3 linked regions of the Homo sapiens genome follow. The protein of the gene in region 1 binds, or shares a complex with, the protein of each later gene. Each region holds a gene or a part of one and is shown on either strand. Other genes may lie near its edges.

The links.
Region 2: PRPF3 (region 1) and PRPF6 share a complex: the UniProt entries of both Homo sapiens proteins name them as parts of the U4/U6-U5 tri-snRNP complex.
Region 3: PRPF3 (region 1) and LSM8 share a complex: the UniProt entries of both Homo sapiens proteins name them as parts of the precatalytic spliceosome.

What each region holds. Positions count from the first base shown.
Region 1 is NC_000001.11:150,345,136-150,352,826, reverse strand, and holds part of PRPF3 (U4/U6 small nuclear ribonucleoprotein Prp3), read right to left. Parts: intron 6,810-7,691; coding exon 6,691-6,809; intron 6,420-6,690; coding exon 6,336-6,419; exon of another isoform or gene 6,326-6,335; intron 3,671-6,325; coding exon 3,609-3,670; intron 1-3,608. UniProt on the Homo sapiens protein: Plays a role in pre-mRNA splicing as component of the U4/U6-U5 tri-snRNP complex that is involved in spliceosome assembly, and as component of the precatalytic spliceosome (spliceosome B complex).
Region 2 is NC_000020.11:63,983,534-63,991,224, reverse strand, and holds part of PRPF6 (pre-mRNA-processing factor 6), read right to left. Parts: intron 6,319-7,691; coding exon 6,200-6,318; intron 1-6,199. UniProt on the Homo sapiens protein: Involved in pre-mRNA splicing as component of the U4/U6-U5 tri-snRNP complex, one of the building blocks of the spliceosome.
Region 3 is NC_000007.14:118,200,730-118,204,792, reverse strand, and holds the end of LSM8 (LSM8 homolog, U6 small nuclear RNA associated), read right to left. Parts: 3' UTR 758-4,063; downstream 1-757. UniProt on the Homo sapiens protein: Plays a role in pre-mRNA splicing as component of the U4/U6-U5 tri-snRNP complex that is involved in spliceosome assembly, and as component of the precatalytic spliceosome (spliceosome B complex).

The sequences.
Region 1 (7,691 bases):
AAGAGATATATAATAAAAACACTTCAATTTCTTATTTAAATCAGATAATATTCTTTTATAAGAAGACCTAGTAACATTTGTGAGACATGTGCCCAGCTGAACGTGATTTTATGGTTAAAAAAAAATTGTGACCTCCATTTCCTTGGATATTTGTGTTTTTCTGAGACAGAGTCTCGCTCTGTCGCCCAGGCTGGAGTGCAGTGGCACGATCTCGGCTCACTGCAAGCTCCGCCTCCCGGGTTCACACCATTCTCCTGCCTCAGCCTCTGGAGTAGCTGGGACTACAGGCGCCCGCTACCACGCCCAGCTGATTTTTTGTATTTCTAGTAGAGACGGGGTTTCACCGTGTTAGCCAGGATGGTCTCGATCTCCTGACCTCGTGATCCTCCCGCCTCAGCCTCCCAAAGTGCTGGGATTATAGGCGTGAGCCACCGCGCCCGGCCTCCTTGGATATTTGTATGAGATTTTACGAATTCATATGCATAAGGCTTTTAGTTTTTTGAAATGAAGTGAGGAATTATTTGCTCTGGTGCCTGGGTGGAACAGCAAGTCAGGAAGAACTATGGAAGGTGGAATGAGATAAACTTATCTCCTACCAGGCCTTAAGGACTAAATCTGAGCCTTCAAAAAGGCCCCAGAAACTATTTATATAAGCAGGAGGCTTTGGGGCCCAGCAACAAAGAACAACTGGGGGCGGGGAACAGAAGAAGAGCAGGTACCAGCAGAGAATTACAACAGAAAAAGACAGTACTGGGCAGAATGGCATTCTTGCCAAAGTTACCAGCAGCAATGGCAGTCATAAAGCAATACCTCAAGAGGCGTTCAGGGAGTAGACTCCAATAAGGAGGCTGGAGCAGAACTTGGCTTATTTCTGAACATGAGAGACAATTCCTGAAAACTAAATTCCTACAACATTAATACTGGTTCTCTAAGAAGCCGGGACTTTTTCAGTAAGTACTCTTCAGAGATAAATAGAAGAAAATTGAAAGATGAGGGTGCTGAGATATGTGAAGGTAGGGCTGGGCACAGTAGCTCATGCCTATAATCCCAGCACTTTGGGAGGCTGAGGTGGGAGGATCACTCAAGGCTAAGAGTTCAAGACAAGCCTAGGCAACATAGTGAGATCCATTTCTAAAAAAAAAAAAAAAAAAAAAAAAAATTAGCCAGGCACAGTGGTGTGGACCTGAGGTCTCAGATACTTGAGAAGCTGAGACTGGAGGATTGCTTGTCCCTAGGAGTTCAAGGCTGTAGCGAGCTATGACTGCGCCACTGCACACCAGCCTGAGCAATAGAGCAAGACCCTATCTCTAAAAAAAAAAGTTGATTAAAAAAAGATAACAAATATGCAGGTGGGAACTTATAAAACAGAGAACAAATACTATGGTTATTATCATCTAATTTGTATGCATAAATTGAAGAATCTGGGATAAGGCAGGATACATGAAAACCTTTTTTTTTAATTTTTATTTTTTGATTGCTCCTTCAGAAGAAAAACTATTAATAGCAATTACCTATAAAGACTGGTCTGAAGAGATCAGCGAATAGGAAGAGACTTTTGTTTTGAGACACAGTCTCGCACTGTCACCCAGGCTGGAGTGCAATGGTGCGATCTCGGCTCACTGCAACCTCCGCTTCCCAGATTCAAGCGATTCTCCTGCCTCAGCCTCCCAAGTAGCTGGGATTATAGGCACTGGCCACCACGCCCCACTAATTTTTGTATTTTTAGTAGAGACTGGGTTTCACCATGTTGGCCAGGTTAGTCTCGAATTCCTGACCTCGTAATCCGCCCACCTCAGCCTCCCAAAGTGTTGGGAGTATAGGCATGAGCCACTGCACCTGGCCTGAGACTTTTTCTTTTTTTTTTTTAAGACAGGGTTTCACTCTGGTGCCCAGGCTGGAGTGCAGTGGCATAGTCACAGCTCACTGCAGCTTCAAACTCCAAAGCTGAAGCAATCTTCCCACCTCAGCCTCTCAAGTAGCTGGGACTACAGGCAGACGCCACCAGGCCAGGCTAATTTTTGTATTTTTTGTAGAGACGGGGTTTCGCCATATTGCCCAGGCTGGTCTTGAACTCCTGAGCTCAAGTGATCCAACCACCTCATCCTCCCAAAGTGCTGGGATTATAGGCGTGAGCCACTGTGCTGGGTCTCAGTAAGTACTCTTCTGTATAATTAGAATTTGTTTCTAATCTTAATAAACATTTACTACTTTTGTAATAATGTACCACTTTTATAATAAAGAATTCATTAATAGAAATAAGCACATTTTACTGCTCGCTTCAGCAGCACATATACTAGAAATAAGCACATTTTAAAAATAGAAGATATATGGCCGGGCGCAGTGACTCATGCCTGTAATCCCAGCACTTTGGGAGGCCAAGGCAGTCGGACCTCAGGTCAGGAGTTCGAGACCAGCTTGACCAATATGGCGAAACCCCGTCTCTACTAAAAATACAAAATTAGCCAGGCGTGGTGGCTCATGCCTGTAATTCCAGCTACTCGGGAGGCCGAGGCAGGAGAATCACTTGAACCCAGGAGGCGGTGGTTGCGGTGAGCTGAGATTGCACCATTGCACTCCAGCCTGGGTAACAAGGGCAAAACTCTCTCAAAAAAAAAAAAAAAGAAATGGAGGGGCTGGGCACAGTGGCTCATGCCTGTAATCCCAGCACTTTGGGAGGCCGAGGCAGGCGGATCACCTGAGGTTGGGAGTTCAAGACCAGCCTGACCAACATGGAGAAACCCTGTCTCTACTATAAATACAAAAATTAGTCGGGCATGGTGGCGTGCACCTGTAATCCCAGCTACTTGGGAGGCTGAGGCAGGAGAATCGTTTGAACCTGGGAGGTAGAGGTTGCGGTGAGCCGAGATCACGCCATCGCACTCCAGCCTGGGCAACAAGAGCAACAAGAGCGAAACTCCATACCGCCCCCCGCCCCCCCGCCCCCAAAAAAAGATATACATGTACTATACCTAAAAGCAAACATGAAAACATTAATACTGGTTTTAATACTGGTTCTCTAAGAAGGCTTCAGGGGTTAAAGAACTAGATAACCATAAAAAATATTCCACTTGAAGAGTGATTCAGTCACATTTTATGAAGCACTATCACATAATTATCTAATTTCATTCTCAAAAACTTGACAATATAGAGAACAATAGCTAAGGCAACAGAATTTGACATTAAGTGTCTTGCCCAGATTGCACAGCTAATAAGCAGCACTGCCCAGCCTCCTAACTTTATATTCTTAAGTCTAGTACTTCCTTCACTATATCCAAAGGTAAATCCAACAACAATTCATTCCCGTTTCCAAGTCTCATATTCATGACTGTGAAATAAATAATTTTCGGTAGAGAATTTGTATTCCTGCTACCAGCAGCACTGTCCACGCACTTCCCCAGATAGCATATACTAAATACTCACGAATTTAATTAAACAGATGATCAGGAAGAATTTACTGCCAACCATTTAAAAATGGATTCCAAAAAGAAACATAAATTATTTAAAACATTATTCACTGATTACATCTTACATTCCATTGCTCCACTCAAATAGTATAAATATTCAGGAGTTGGCTAAAGTTTTACAATGTTTTACAAAGGATCACCTACCTCCCAGACTAGTACACATTTGTTGGTTTTCTTCACAGCTTCCTCATCAGACTCCTCATCATCTGGAAGAGAAATCTTGTTACAGACTTAGACTTGAGATTCAGGTTCTAAACAAATAATATTCAAGTCTACCCAAACTCTCTAAAATATTATCACCCTTTTTATGTGTTGGACCAAGTGTTCTCTTTTCTGTTGCTCTTTATTTTCCCCAAATTAGACTTGAAGCTCCAAGTAGGCAGTAATATTAATTGATACAATTAGCATTTACATAGCACTTGTTATGAATCAAGAGCTCCACCAGGTACTGGGAATAAGGAAATAAAAGACAAGCAGTCAAGAATAAAAACTTGTCCTAGGCACTTTGGGAGGCAGGCTTCATATGTCAACATCATATATTACTCTCAAAAAACTTTCACCCAATGGAGGAGGAGGGCAGATATACCAAATCAAAATTATCGGCCAGCGTGGTGGCTCACGCCTGTAATCCTAGCGCTTTGGGAGGCTGAGGTGAGTGGATCACCTGAGGTCAAGAGTTTGAGACCAGCCTAGCCAACATGGCGAAACCTCATCTCTACTAAAAATACAAAAATTAGCCAGGTGTGGTGGCAGGTGCCTGTAATCCGAGCTTATCAGGAGGCCGAGGCAGGAGAATCACTTGAACCTGGGAGGCGGAGGCTGCAGTGAGCCAAGATGGTGCCACTGCACTCCAGCCTGGGCAAAAGAGCAAAGACTCCATCTCAAAAAAAAAAAAAAAAAAATGCACGTGTAGAACAAAATATTTTTTATTCTCAGGTATCTTAAGATGAACTCTCTGCAGATTTTATTTATATTTTTATTTTTTTGAGACGGAGTCTTGCTCTGTCACTCAGGCTGGAGTGAAGTGGTATGATCTCAGCTCACTGCAACCGCTTCCTGGGTTCAAGTGATTCTCCTGCCTAGGCCTCCCGAGTAGCTGGGATTACAGGCGCACGCTGCCACGCCCAGCTCATTTTTGTATTTTTTAGTAGAGACGGGGTTTCACCATGTCAGGCTGGTCTCAAACTCCTGACCTCAGGTGATCCACCCGCCTCGGCCTCCCAAAGTGCTGGGATTACAGGCATAAGCCATCACACCAGGCCTCTCTGCAGATTTTAAATGCTAATCCAGGTGTTCAAAGATGAGAAGAATGAACACTAATGGGAGTATGATGGCCAGAAGAATGTCTGGCCTTCAAATATAGACAGACAGTCCTTGACTTACAATTTTTTGCCTTGAGTATAGTGTGAAAGTGATAAATATTTAGTAGAAAATGTACTTCAAATTTTAAATTTTGAGATTTTCCTGGGCTAGCAATATGCAGTAAAATACTCTTACATGAGATAAAAATAGGCTTTGTGTTAGATGATTTTGCCCAACTGTAGGCTAATCTAAGTATTCTGAGAAAGTATAAGGAAGGCTAGGCTGTTATGATGTCCTGTAGGTCAGATGTATTAAATGCATTTTTTTTTTTTTGAGATGGAGTCTTGCTCTGTCGCTTAGGCTGCAGTGCAGTGGTGCGATCACAGCTTACTGCAACCTCCGCCTGCCAGGTTCAAGCGATTCTCCTGCCTCAGCCTCCCGAGTAGCTGGGATTACAGAGGTCCACCACCACGCCCCGAATTTTTGTGTTTTCAGTAGAGACGGGGTTTCACCATGTTGGCCAGGCTGTTACGAACTCCTGACCTCAAATGATCTGCTCGCCTCGGCCTCCCAAAGTGCTCAGATTATAAGTGTGAGCCACCGTGCCTGGCCTTAAATGCATTTTTGACTTAACAATATTTTCAATTTATCTCAGGTTTATTGGAACTAACCCCATCATTAAGTTGAAGAGCATATGTGTGAGTATGTACATGTACATGTATGTGTGTGTATTGTGTGTATGTGTATGTGTGTGTACATGTGTGTATGTATGTGTGTGTGTGTGTATGTATGTGTATGTGTGTATATATATATATCAGACAAAAGAAATAGTTTGATCAAAGCAGAGCTTTTTTGACCTGAAGATCTTTTTGGCTTCAATCCTTAAAAAAAAAAAAATCAAATAATAATATAATATAGACACTGTACACATGAATGTATAGCTTACTAGATTTGCTTTTTCTTTTTTTTGAGACAGGGTCTCATTCTGTCACCCAGGCTGGATTGCAGTGGCACGATCACAGCTTACTGCAGCCTCGACCTCCCCAAGCTCAAGTGATCCTCCCACCTCAGCTTCCTGAGTAGCTGGGAATACAGGTGTGTGCCACCACATCCAGCTAATTTTTGTACTTTTTGTAGATATGGGGTTTCACCACGTTGTTTGCCCAGGCTGGTCTCGAACTCCTGGCCTCAGGCAATCTGCCCGCCTCAGCCTCCCAAAGTGCTAGGATTACAGGCATGAGCCACCATGCCTAGCTGCTTGCTGAATTTTCAAATACTGAATAAATTCATGTAACCGGTACTCAGATCCAGGACAGACACAGAAACCAGCTGGTAGAAAAGCCTTAAATGATAGGCAAAAAAATAGCTTTACCATTCATGCATATAATCATGTAGTAAATATTGTATGAATGTCTAGGAGGCTCAAAGTCTAAACGGGTCTTTCTAAAATTCCTGAACACTATCTAGTGTTATCAAGAGTGTCACAGGGAGGAAATAAGATGAACGGACAGATGCACCATCCCCACCTCCCATAGCTCTCCCCCTTAATCCCCTCTAACCCCCATTCACCATCTCCCTTTGTGTTAGATGTCTGTTCATCCCACTTTATCCGATGCAGCATAAGACGCTTAAATTTCTTCTGGGCCTTGGGGCCTGGAAACAGAGAAGAATAATTTTGCCAGAACTGTGGAAGATGATGGGGTAGAAAGAACCTCTGAGCTCAGACATTAATGTGGTAGTTGAAGCAATCTCAGGAACCACATCTTAGGGCCTTCTACTCCAAAAAACACAGAAGCAGAGACCTAGCATATTATATCAGGTATGGCACTAAAATACGATCTTTTTCTCCTTTCTCCCCACAATGCTAATCACTCTAAGCCTAGGGTTGTCTGGGGACAGTCTCCCTCAAGTTTTTCAGACTCACCCCCTTCCACTACTACCACGTTGACATCCTTGTGCAGTACCACCACCCCTGTCAGGTACAGTTGCCCAGCATTGGCTTCAATCTTGAACTTCTTGGCTGGGTTGCTCAAATTTCGAACTCTGGAGAAGGGAAAGTTTAGTTATGTCTTCCATTTTAGCATCAGCAGCTGCCTGAATGGAGTGGCAAGTAAAAAGATGAATCCAAAATGGTTTCCTCTCTATAAACAAAGGCCTCTGGAGTAAACAAATAGATGAATGCTTAAAAGGTAGAGTTGATGAGTCTAGAAATATTTCCACACTCTTACATTTCTTCAAAGTCTAGCACTTTACATTAACCATTACATTACTAACCAAAGTTTACTCTAAGAGTCAGGGAGAGGTATTTACTATCATCCAAAAATACTTACAATCTCATTGTTCTTGACAATGTAAAGACCTACAGACTTTTTGTCCTCTAGACCCTTAGACTCTTATAATATAGGATTACTTGGCTGGGTGCGGTGGCTCATGCCTGTAATCCCAGCACTTTGGGAGGCCAAAGTGGGCAGATCACGAGGTCAGGAGTTTAAGACCAGCCTGGCCAACATGGTGAAACCCCATCTCTACTAAAAATACAAAAATTAGCCGGGCGTGGGGGTGCGTGCCTGTAATCCTAGCTACTCAGGAGGCTGAGGCAGGAGAATTGCTTGAACTTGGGAGGCAGAGGTTGCAGTGCGCTGAGATCGCGCCATTGCACTCCTGCCTGGGCAACAAGACTGAAACTCCGTCTCAAAATAAATAAATAAATAAATAAAATATATATATAGGATCACTATATAGGCATGAAAATTTTCTAGGAGGATATGTGAAAAACTGTTAATAGCAATTACCTAAAGAGAGTGGTTCTAAGGGATCAGAGAATAGAAAGGAGACATTTTGAGTAAGTATTCTTCTGTGTTGTCAGACAATTTTTTAAATCTTAATAAGCATTCACTATTTTTGTGATAATGTACCACTTTTATA
Region 2 (7,691 bases), on another chromosome or scaffold:
CTCGAACTCCTAGACTCAAGTGGTCCTCCTGCCTTGGCCTCCCAAGGTACTAGGATTACACATGTAAGCCACTGCACCCAGCCTGATGTTTTTTAAAATGCATTAACCCTGGAGGTTCCAATCAATTTTTAAAATGTAGGGCTGAGTGTAGTAACTCATGCCTGTAATCCTAGCACTTTGGGAGGCCAAGGTTAGGGGAGGCAGGTGGATCACTTGAGGCCAGGAGTTCAAGACCAGCCTGGGCAACATAGACAAAAATTAGCTGGGTGTGAGCCTGGCGTGGTGGCTCAAGCCTGTAATCCCAGCACCTTGGGAGGCCAAGGCAGGCAGATCACAAGGGCAGGAGTTCAAGACCAGCCTGGCTAACATTGGTGAAACCCCGTCTCTACTAAAAATACCCATCTCTACAAAAATCAGCCGGGCGTGGCGGTGCATGCCTGTAATCCCAGCCACTTGGGAGGCTGAGGCAGGAGAATCACTTGAACCCTGGAGGCGGAGGTTGCAGTAAGCCGAGGTTGCGCCATTGCACTCCAGCCTGGGCAATAGAGTGAGACTCCATCTCAAAAAAAAAAAAAGAAAAAAGAAAAATTAGCTGGGTGTGGTAGCACGTGCTTGTAATCCCAGCTACCTGGGAGGCTGAAGCAGGAGAATCGCTTGAGCCAGGAATTGAAGGTTACAGGGAGCTATAATCAAGCCACCGCGCTCCACCCTGGGTGACAGAGTAAGATCCTGTATCCAAAAAAAAAAAAAAGTGAAATGCAATGCCATTCACGTTTAATTACTATAGGTATAAAATTTATGCACAATGATTTAATAACGAGCTTCTAAAAAGATGTCCAGGCCAGGCACATTGACTTATGTCTGTAATCCCAGCACTCTGGGAGGCCAAAGGATATGGTTTACATCTGTGTCCCCATGAAATCTCATGCTGAATTATAATTCCCAATGTTTGAGGTGGGGCCTGGTGGGAGGCCACTTGAGTCTTGAGGGCAGACCCCTGATGGCCTGGTGCTGTCCTCGAGGCAGCAAGTTTACATCACGTAAGATCTGGTTGTTTAAAGTGTGTGGCAAGACTGGGCACGGTGGCTCATACCTGTAATTCCAACACTTTGGGAGGCTGAGGCGGGTGGATCACTTGGGGTCAGGAGTTCAAGACCGGCCTGGCCAACATGGTAAAACCCTGTCTCTACTAAAAACACAAAAATTAGCCAGGTGTGGTGGCGCGTGCCTATAATCCCGGCTACTTGGGAGGCTGAGGCAGAAGAATCACTTGAGCCTGGGAGACTCAAAAAAATAAAAAATAAATAAAATTCCAGAAGAACTATATTTTACTATTCTAAAATTATCTTCAAAAAATAAAACATTCTACATACATCACAGGAAGTTATGATTACATGTATAAAAAGCAACAGAGCTGGGCGCAGTGGCTCACGTCTGTAATCCCAGCACTTTGGGAGGCCGAGGTGGATGGAGCACAAGGCCAGGAGTTTGAGACCATCCTGGCCAACATGGTGAAACCCCGTCTCTACTAAAATACAAAAACTAGCCAGGCGTGGTGGCAGGCACCTGTAATCCCAGCTACTTGGGAGGCTGAGGCAGGAGAATTGCTTGAACCCGGGAGGCAGAGGTTGCAGTGAGCCAAGATAAAAAAAAGCAACAGAAAGAGGAAATGAGCCAAAATGTTAACTGTTACTTTCTAGACTTATGAATAAATGTTATGCTTTTACCCATACTTACTCTTATTTTCCTAATATTCTATAATGAGAACTTTTTATTTTTTTCCTTTTTGAGACAGTCTCTGTGGCCCAGGCTGGAGTGCAGTAGCGCACTCTTGGCTCACGGGAGCGAGCCACCACACCTGGCTTCCGTTCGTTGCCTGTGCTTGTGGGGTATTACTCAAGAAATCTTTGCCTAGTCCAATGTCCTGTAGAGTTTCTCCAATGTTTTCTTCTAGTAGTTTCAGCTTGAGGTCTTAAAGTCTTTTAATTTGATTTTTGTATGTGGTGACAGAGAGGGGTCTAGTTTCATTCTTCTGTATATAGATATCCAGTTTTCCCAGCACCGTTTATTGAAGAGATTGTCTTTTCCCCAATAAATATTCCTGGTACATTTGTCAAGAATGAGTTCACTGTAGAGGTACCTATTTGTTTCTGGGTCCATTCTGTTCCATTGGTCTATGTGTCTGTTTTTCTGCCAGTACTATGCTGTTTTTGTTACTACAGCTCTGTAGTATAATTTGAAGTCAAGTGTTCCCCCAGTTTTGTTCCTTTTGCTCAGGATAGCTTTGCCTATTCTGGGTCTTTTTTGGCTCCATGTACATTTTAGAATTATTTTTTCTTTTTCTTTTTTTTTTTTTGAGACGGAGTCTCACTCTGTTGCCCAGGCCGGAGTGCAATGGCACGATCTCAGCTGACTGCAACCTCTGCCTTCCAGGTTCAAGTGATTCTCCTGCCTCAGCCTCCCAAGTAGCTGGGATTACAGGCACCTGTCACCATGCCCAACTAATTTTTGTATTTTTAGTAGAGATGGGGTTTAGCCAGGCTGGTCTCGAACTGCTGACCTCAAGTGATCCACCTGCCTCAGCCTCCCAAAGTGTTGGGATTACAGGCATGAGCCACTGCACCTGGCTATTTTTTCACTATCTGTTAATAATGTCCCCAGTATTTTGATACGGATTGCATTGAATCTGTAAATTACTTTGGGTAGTATGGATATTTTCTTTTATTTTAAGATGGAGTCTCACTCTGTTACCCAGGCTGGAGTGCAGTGGTGCAATCTCAGCTCACTGCAACCTCGACCTCCTGGGTTCAAGCGATTCTCCTGCCTCAGCCTCCCAACTAGCTGGGACTACAGGCGTGCACCCCCACACCCGGCTAATTTTTGTTTTTTGGTTTTTTTTTTTTTTGAGACAGAGTCTTGCCCCGTCACTCAGGCTGGAGTGCAGTGGTGCAATCTCAGCTCACTACAACATTTGCCTCCTAGGTTCAAGCAATTCTCTTGCCTCAGCCTCCTGAGTAGCTGGGATTACAGACGTGTGCCACTACACCCAGCTAATTTTTGTATTTTTAGTAGAGACAGGGTTTCACTATGTTGGTCAGCCTGGTCTCAAACTCCTGACCTCAAGTGATCCACCCACCTCACTCTCCCAAGGTGCTGGGATTACAGGCGTGAGTCCCAGCGCCTGGCAACTTTTGTAATTTTTTTAGTAGAGACAGGGTTTCACCACGTTGGTCAGGCTGGTCTCGAACTCCTGACCTCCAGTCATCCACCTGCCTCGGCCTCCCAAAGTGCTGGGATTACAGGCGTGAGCCACCGTGCCCGGCCATTTTTGTATTCTTAATAGTGACAGGGTTTCTCTTTGTTGGCCAGGCTGGTCTCAAACTCCTGACCTCAGGTGATCCACCCACCCTCAGCCTCCCAAAGTGCTGGGATTACAGGTGTGAGCCACCACACCTGGGGGCATAGCCTGCAACTTTAATCAATTTGTCAGTTCCAATAGTGTTTTGGTAGAGTCTTTAGGGTTTTCTAAATATAAGATCATATCATCTGCAAACAAGGATAATTTAACTTCTTCTTTTCCAATCTGGATGCCCTTTTATTTATTTCTCTGGTCCGACTGCTCTAGCTAGGACTTCCAGTACAATGTTGAATCACAGTGGTGAAAGTGGGCATCCTTGTTGCGTTCCAGTTTTTCCCCATTCAGTATGATACGAGCTGTGGGCCTACCATATGTGGCTTTTTTTTTTCTTTGCGACACAGTCTCATTGTGTTGCCCAGGCTGGAGTGCAGTGGCACAATCTCAGCTCACTGTAACCTCCACCTCCTGAGTAGCTGAAATTATAGGCCTGAGCCACCACACCCAACTAATCTTTGGATTTTTAGTAGAGACAGGGTTTTACCATGTTGGTCAGGATGGTCTCAAACTCCTGACCTCAAATGATCTGCCTGCCTGGGCCTCCCAAAGGGCTGTGATTACAGGCGTGAACCACCCCATCCAGCTGTATATAGCTTTTATTGTGTTATGCTCCCCCCCCCTTTTTTTTTTTTTTTTTTTTGAGACAGGGTCTCGCTCTGTGGCCCAGGCTGAAGTGTGGTGGTATGATCTCAGCTCACTGCAACCTCTGCCTCCTGGGCTCAAGTAATTCTCCCATCTCAGCCTCCTGAGTAGCTAGGACTACAGGTGTGTGCCACGAAGCCTGGCTAATTTTTGTATTTTTTTGTAAAGAAAAGGTATTACCCTCTTGCCTAGGCTGGTCTCAAACTCCTGAGATCAAGCAGTCCTCCCGCCTCAGCCTCCCAAAGTGCTGGGATTACAGACGTGAGCCACCACACCCAGCCTGAGGTATGTTTCTTCTATATGCAGTTTTTTGAGAGTTTTTATCATCAAGGAATGTTGAATCTTATCAAATGCATTTTCAGAATCAATTAAAATGATTAGGCCGGGCGCAGTGGCTCACGCCTGTAATCCCAGCACTTTGGGAGGCCGAGGCAGGTGGATCATGAGGTCAGGAGATCAAGACCATCCTGGCTAACACAGTGAAATCCCGTCTCTACTAAAAATACAAAAAATTAGCCAGGCGTGGTGGCGGGCAACTGTAGTCCCAGCTACTCAGGAGGCTGAGGCAGGAGAATCACTTGAACCCAGGAGGTGGAGGTTGCAGTGAGCTGAGATTGCGCCACTGCACTCCAGCCTGGGCAACAGAGCGAGACTCCGTCTCAAAAAAAAAAAAAAAAAGATCATATGGTTTTTGTCCTTCATTCTGTTGATATGATGTATAACACTGATTAATTTGCATATGTTGAACCACCCTTGCACTTGTATCCCCTGGGCAAAATGCCACTTGGTCATGATGAACGATCTTTTTTTTTTTTTTTTTTTGAGATGGAGTCTTGCTCTTGTCTCCCAGGCTAGAGTGCAGTGTTGTGACCTCGGCTCACTGCAACCTCCACCTCCCGAGTTCAAGCGATTCTCTTGCCTCAGCCTCCCAAGTAGCTGGGATTATAGGCGTACACCACCCACCATGCCCGGCTAATTTTTGTATTTTTAGTAGAGACTGGGTTTCACTAGGTTGGCCAGACTGGTCTTGAACTCCTGACCTCAGATGACCCATCATCCGCCCACCTCGGCCTCCCAAAGTGCTAGAATTACAGGCGTGATCCACTGCGCCCAGCCGATGAACCATCTTTCTAATGTGTTGTTGAATATGGTTTGCTAGTATTCTGCTGATTTCTGCATCAGTGTTCATCAGGGATACTGACCTAACATTTTCTTTTTTCAGTGTGTCTTTGTCTGGTTTTGGTATCAGGGTAATACTGGTTCTGTAGAATAAGTTTGGAAGTATTCCCTCCTCTATTTTTCAGAATAGTCTGAGTAGAATTGGTATTAGTTCTTCTTCAAATATTTGGTAAAATTCAGCAATGAAGCAATCAGATCCTGAGATGTTCTCTGCTAGGACACTTTCTGTTACAGCTTTGATCTCATTACCTTTTATTGGTCTGTTCAGGTTTGGGATTTCTTCATGGTTCAATCTTGGTAGCTTGTATGTGTCATTTAACATCTTTAATTCATTTGCAAATTACTCAACATATAATAATCAAGTCAGTAGGCCCTTTTCATTTCAAAGATGGTAACCCTGATGTATCGTAAAAGTAATCCACAAAATTCTGCTGATTTCTGGAAAAACTTAAGAGTTCTTAAGCTCTCCACTGCAGCCCCCAGGCCCTAAGGCTGTTCTGTAACAGCCCAGTGCTTATCCAGGCATGGCTACGACAGACCAAGACCCTCAGGTGGCCTAAAAGCTAAGCAGACACACATACTCTATTGCAACTTTTCTCCAAATATAAAACAATTCAAAACAAAACTTTTTTTTTTTTTTGAGACAGGGTCTCACTATGCCAACCAGGCTGGAATGATCATGGCTCACTGCAGTTTCTACCTCCTGGGCTTAAACGGTCCTTCCACCTCAGCCACCCAAGTAGCTGGGACTACAGGTGTGTACCATCTGGCTAATTTTTAAATTATTTGTAGAGATTAAGTCTCCCTACGTTGCCCACACTGGTCTCAAACCCCTGGGCTCTAGCTATCGTCCTACCTCAGCCTCTCAAAGTGCTAGGATTACACACGTGAGCCACTGCGCCTGGCCACAAAACTTTTTTTTAAACTTGGATAAATATTGTGAAAGGCAACAATTTCTTTTACCGTCTTTCTTTTCTTCTTTCATCCATCCTTTTATCCAGGGCTGCATAGATAGCATCTGCTTCCTCATCATCTTTCTCGTAGGGTCCACTTGAGAAGAGGCTCCCAGCATAGCCATTAAACTGAGAAGCAAACAACACGTGTAGAGGTCAGCTTTTCCTTCAACACCATCCCCACCAGCGAAACGGAGATCTCTACTTGTGAAATACTTGCTAAATTATTTTCTTCAGCCAACGAAGCCAAATCAAGGGACAGTCTACCATATAACTGGTGACTACTCTTCAAGCGTCAAGGGCATGGAAGACAGAGGAGACCCCCAATTGGAAGGGACCAAGGAGACATGACGAAATGCAATGGGGGATCCTGGACTAAGCCTAAGCCAGAAAGCGGACATTCATGGAAAAACATGAAATGCAAATACGACTGACAAATTAGTTAATAGTACTGTGTCAATGTTAACTCCTTCGTTTCAATAACTGCACTAAGGTCATGTAACATCGGGAGAAGCTTGGTGAAAGACATGCAGAAACTTTTTTTTGGGGGGGCACTATTTTTGCAAATTCCTGCAAATTTAAAATTATTTCAAAACTAATTTTTTTTTTTTTTCTGAGACAGAGTCTCGCACTCTCGCCAAGGCTGGAGTGCAGTGGCGCAATCTTGGCTCACCGCAACCTCCGCCTCCCGGGTTCACAGCATTCTTCTGCCTCAGCCTCCCGAGTAGCTGGGACTACAGGCACATGCCACCATGCCCGGCTAATTTTTGTGTAGTTTTAGTAGAGACGGGGTTTCACCATGTTAAACAGGATGGTCTCGATATCCTGGCCTCATGATCCGCCCACCTCGGCCTCCAAAAGTGCCAGGATTATAGGTGTGAGCTACCGCACCTGGCCTCAAAACTAAAATTATTTTTAAAAATTTTCCTCAGAGGAAAAATGTCATCTGTTAGAAGACAGTTAATCGGTATTCAGTCAGCTGAAGTTTTTCTTTAGATGTCTGTTTAGAGGGCAATCACTAAAGCTAAAAAAAGCAAATACTATCACCAATTCCACTTTAAGTTTTTATCATTAAAGACTGGCAGCCAGGCGCAGTGGCTCACGCCTGTAATCCCAACACTTTGGGAAGCCGAAGCGTGCGGACAACCTGAAGTCAGGAGTTCGAGACCAGCCTGACCAACATGGAGAAACCCTGTCTCTACTAAAAATACAAAATTAGCCAGGCATGGTGGCGCATGCCTGTAATCCCAGTTACTTGGAGACTGAGGCAGGAGAATCGCTTGAAATGGGGAGGCAGAGGTCACAGTGAGCTGAGATCACACCACTGCACTCCAGCCTGGCCAACAAGAGCGAAAGTCCGTCTCAAAAAAAAAAAAAAAAAAAGACTGGCCAATAGGAAATGCCAAGGCAGTGGTCCTAACACCTGCAAGAACATCTCTTCCGACAAGAGCGAAATTCCATCTCAAAAAAAAAAGACTGGCCAATAGGAAATGCCAAGGCAG
Region 3 (4,063 bases), on another chromosome or scaffold:
GTCTATTATTTCCATTTTTGTGTCCATGTGTACACATTGTTTAGCTCCCACTGATAAGTGAGAAAATGTGATAGTTGATTTTCTCTTTCCAAGTTAGTTCACTTAGGATAATGGGCTGTAGCTCCATCCATGTTGCTGCAAAGGACATGATTTAATTCTTTTTTATGGCTTCATAGTATTCCATTATATATATATATAATATTATATATTATATATATTTAAATATTTTATATATTATATATCATGGAATGTGTGTATATATATACACACACATTATATATACACTCTATATATACACTATATACAATGTGTAAACAGTAAATGTTATTGTGTATATATACAAAAATGTTACATATGTGTGTATGTGTGTGTATATGTATATGTATATATGAAATATTTCCTTTATCAAATCAACCACTCATGGACACTTAGGTTGGTTCTATGACTTTGCTACTGTGAATCGTGCAATGATAAGCATACACATGCAGGTGTCTTGTTTATAGTTTCATATGCTTTATTTTTTACTGTAGTAAATGAAAAATATAGCCCCATCAAACCAGAAAATTGAATCTTGCTTGAGGACAATAATTAAAATTCTTCTTAAATCATCAAAGTCCAGGGCTTCCTTCAAATGTAAACTTTTCTTTTTTAAAAAAGTGTGTCCTTGCTATTTTTACATACCATCCGTTATCCCCATAATTACATATCACCCTTAAAATATGGCAAGAATCTCAGAAAAAAACATGGACATTCTTAGTAGCCTCTGTAAAATAATTTATTTTTAGGTGTAATAATTAACAGCAATATATCTATAGTATTAAAATTTACAAATCATTGTTAGAACTGAGCAATTCATAGGTAACCAATAAGGGAGGAAAGGAATTAGAAAGCAACCAAGAAAAACAGCTGTAAGAATATGGAGATATTCTTCATATGCAATAAGGTGGCAAATTTATTCAAAAAAGCATGATAAATATAAAGGATGAGTATATTATAATATACATGTGCACATATTAAATGTTTGAAATCACAAATTATGATTTATTTTCTCAACTAAACTGTTACTATAGAATCATAAAAAGGAAGAGAATCTTGATGATTTTTCCATTAGAGTATACCATGTTAGATCTGGCAGATGACTTTTCACTTTTTATAGTGCTCCAAAAATTGGTACACTTCCCTTTGCCTTTTGGAGACATCACTGACTTTGATATTCAGAGTGGTAAAATCATGATATAAAAATTCTTGCCCATTGAAACTCAATTATCCTATTTACTTGATTTTTAGTCCCTTTCTTCATTTTCCTTATTTAGATATTAATCTCTACTAAACAACCATTACTCTATTTAAAAAATTTAAGTCTACAGCTTGAATAATCACAGCTCTATTAATATTGGATATTAGGACCTCCCCGCAATTTTTACTCCTATATGATATCAGAAATATTAGTATCTTCTTCAAGGGAAATGGGAAAATTATGTGAGTTTTAAAAGGGGTTTATATTTCTTTCTTAAATTAGTATTCAGAGTGCCCCATAATTCTGTTCTCATATAAGCATTTCTCCTGTACAATTTAAAATCTGTTTTTTGAGATTAATTTTTTAAATGAGTCTTCTTAGAACATCTTGCTTTGGAGTTTGGGAGTTAAATCCTTTCATTAAATGTTTAAAAAGAATATATATTCTGATGTCTTGGGATAGAACGTTCTATAAATGGCAGTTAGGTCAAGATGGATGAAAGTATTGTTCATGTCTTCTATATCCCTACTGATTTAAGGCTACAGTTTTTAAAGACTGATAGGGAGGGACTTGACGCCAGAATCCTGAAGGATAAAGTAAGGTAAAAAAGTGTGTAGAAAGACAGTATAGATCAGTGCTTCTCAAACTTTAATGTGCATATGACTCACCTGGGGAATTTATTAAAATTCATATTCTGCATTTTATATCAGAGATAAAAAAGAATTCTGTTTGGGCATAGAAGTTGTTTTCACCTGCCTCTGAGATACTTGCTTCTATACTAGCACAATGGCAGCATTGTTGGTTGTTCACCCCATCCCCATTCTTCTCTTTTTCCTAACAGCAACCCTTTTTTTATTTGGAGTGGCAAAATGTCACTATAAAAGGAAAAAAATCCCTCACCTTCCTAGCCTCCCTTGTAGTTAGGGTAACCATATGACAAAGATCTGGCCAATGGCATTCAAGCAGTATATTTTGCCAGTATAGTCTGCTGGTTATAGTTGGGAAAGCATTTATTTTTCCCATATGATAATCTCACTTTCCTATTTCATCTTTCTTTATTCTAATTAGATGGAAAATATGAGTCACGAGATGACAGGCAAATTATTAGAACAAAAGGATGGCAAAGAGAAAATAGTGGCCTGGGTACTGGGTCACTTCTTTGAGTAGGTGCCCCAGTCTGAACTGCCTTGCTTTTCACTTTTCTGTTCTTTTCTCTCGAGATAAATGAACTCCTCCTGCCTGTTAAAGCCACTGGCAGTCAGAGTTTCCAGTGCTTATAGCCAAATACCATTCTAACTGATGTACTCACCAATAATAATCGTAACTTCCTTTCATATGACACTTCATGGTTTCTTCATCAGCATTATGTGTGACACAAGCAAAAACAAAAACAAAAAAACTGCCAATGTATCTATTTCAAGACATCCCCAGAATTCTGTTATTAAATAGCATTGATGAGGCAGTCAGCCAGAATGTTTAAGCTGTCCTAAATTACTGCCTCCTCTGTGTTTAGGGAGTCTGCTCTTGGTCTTACAAGTCCAAAAGCAGAATATTACAAATTCACATAGAAGTGATCAGGATCTAGAGACTTGATTTATGCCATGCAGATTCACAGGGCATTTGTTTATAAAATTTGTGCTGGAAGATTACTTGTGAACTAGGGCCAAACCCTTAATTATGACTAGGGAAACCCAGAAGATAAAGTTGCATTAAAAGCCTGCTTGATGGAAACAGAAACATACAAAAGATGGCCTTACAGGGAAAAAGTTAAAGTGTTACCACAAATGTATACATGAAATGACCAATAATTTTATTTTATATTTCAAATAACTAGAATTGTACAGAGTTTAATTTTACAGCTTTAGGGCAAGGATAAACTCATTTTTATTTTTGCAGTAAAAGGTATAAATATTGAAAATTATGTAGGTTTAAAACTTTACTATGATATAGACACATTCTCAAATTAATGAATTTTACTGAGCTTTTTATATCAAACTTACTGATATTTAATGCAAAATAATAAATATTGAGATTCTTGGTTGTACATTATAAAATGCATCACAGAGCGATTTATTGATGCAAAGGAACCGTTTTGGCTCATGTAAGTGAAAAGTCTAGGAGTCACATCTTTAGGCATCGCTGGATCCAGGTGCTGAAATGATGTCATCAGGCCCAAAATGTCTCTTTATTGCTTGATTCTGCTTTCCTGAGTTGGTATCAACTAGGAGACTCTCTCTACATGCTCCATGGCAGCTCCAGGCTCACACATACTTAGTATTAAGATTTTCTCCTCTTCTTTAATATAAAGGAAATTCAGCTAGATGATCTTTAGTTCAAAATTCTGTGATATATAAATAACTCGAAATAACTGCTAACAGTTAATGAAACATCTGATTCAGTAAAGATAATGGTTATTTACAATTGAGTATTGCATATTAAAAAGTTCATTAAAGGTTTATTTTTATAGTTATTTCAAATTTGCCTTTTGCATTTTTAGTAACTATGAGTGATACAAGCAAAACTACAACCTAGCACAAGTTGAAGTATCACAAATTTCAAGTCAATTGCTACCAAATTAGATTTTAATATAATTTAGATACTAATATTAGTGTATATGTGAAAAGTGTTTGCTAATGGGAAATTTAGCCCATTAATTGTCAATCAACAGTCAAGATTTAGAAACCTCCTTTTTTACAAGAAACAAGTAGAAACTGGGATGGGAGAATAACATTAGCAATTGCAAACCTCAGTTCGTTCCATTAAAATGTTGATTGCCTTGGGAATAGATGCTGTCACAGGAGAAAAAAGTGTAAATTCAAACACTTA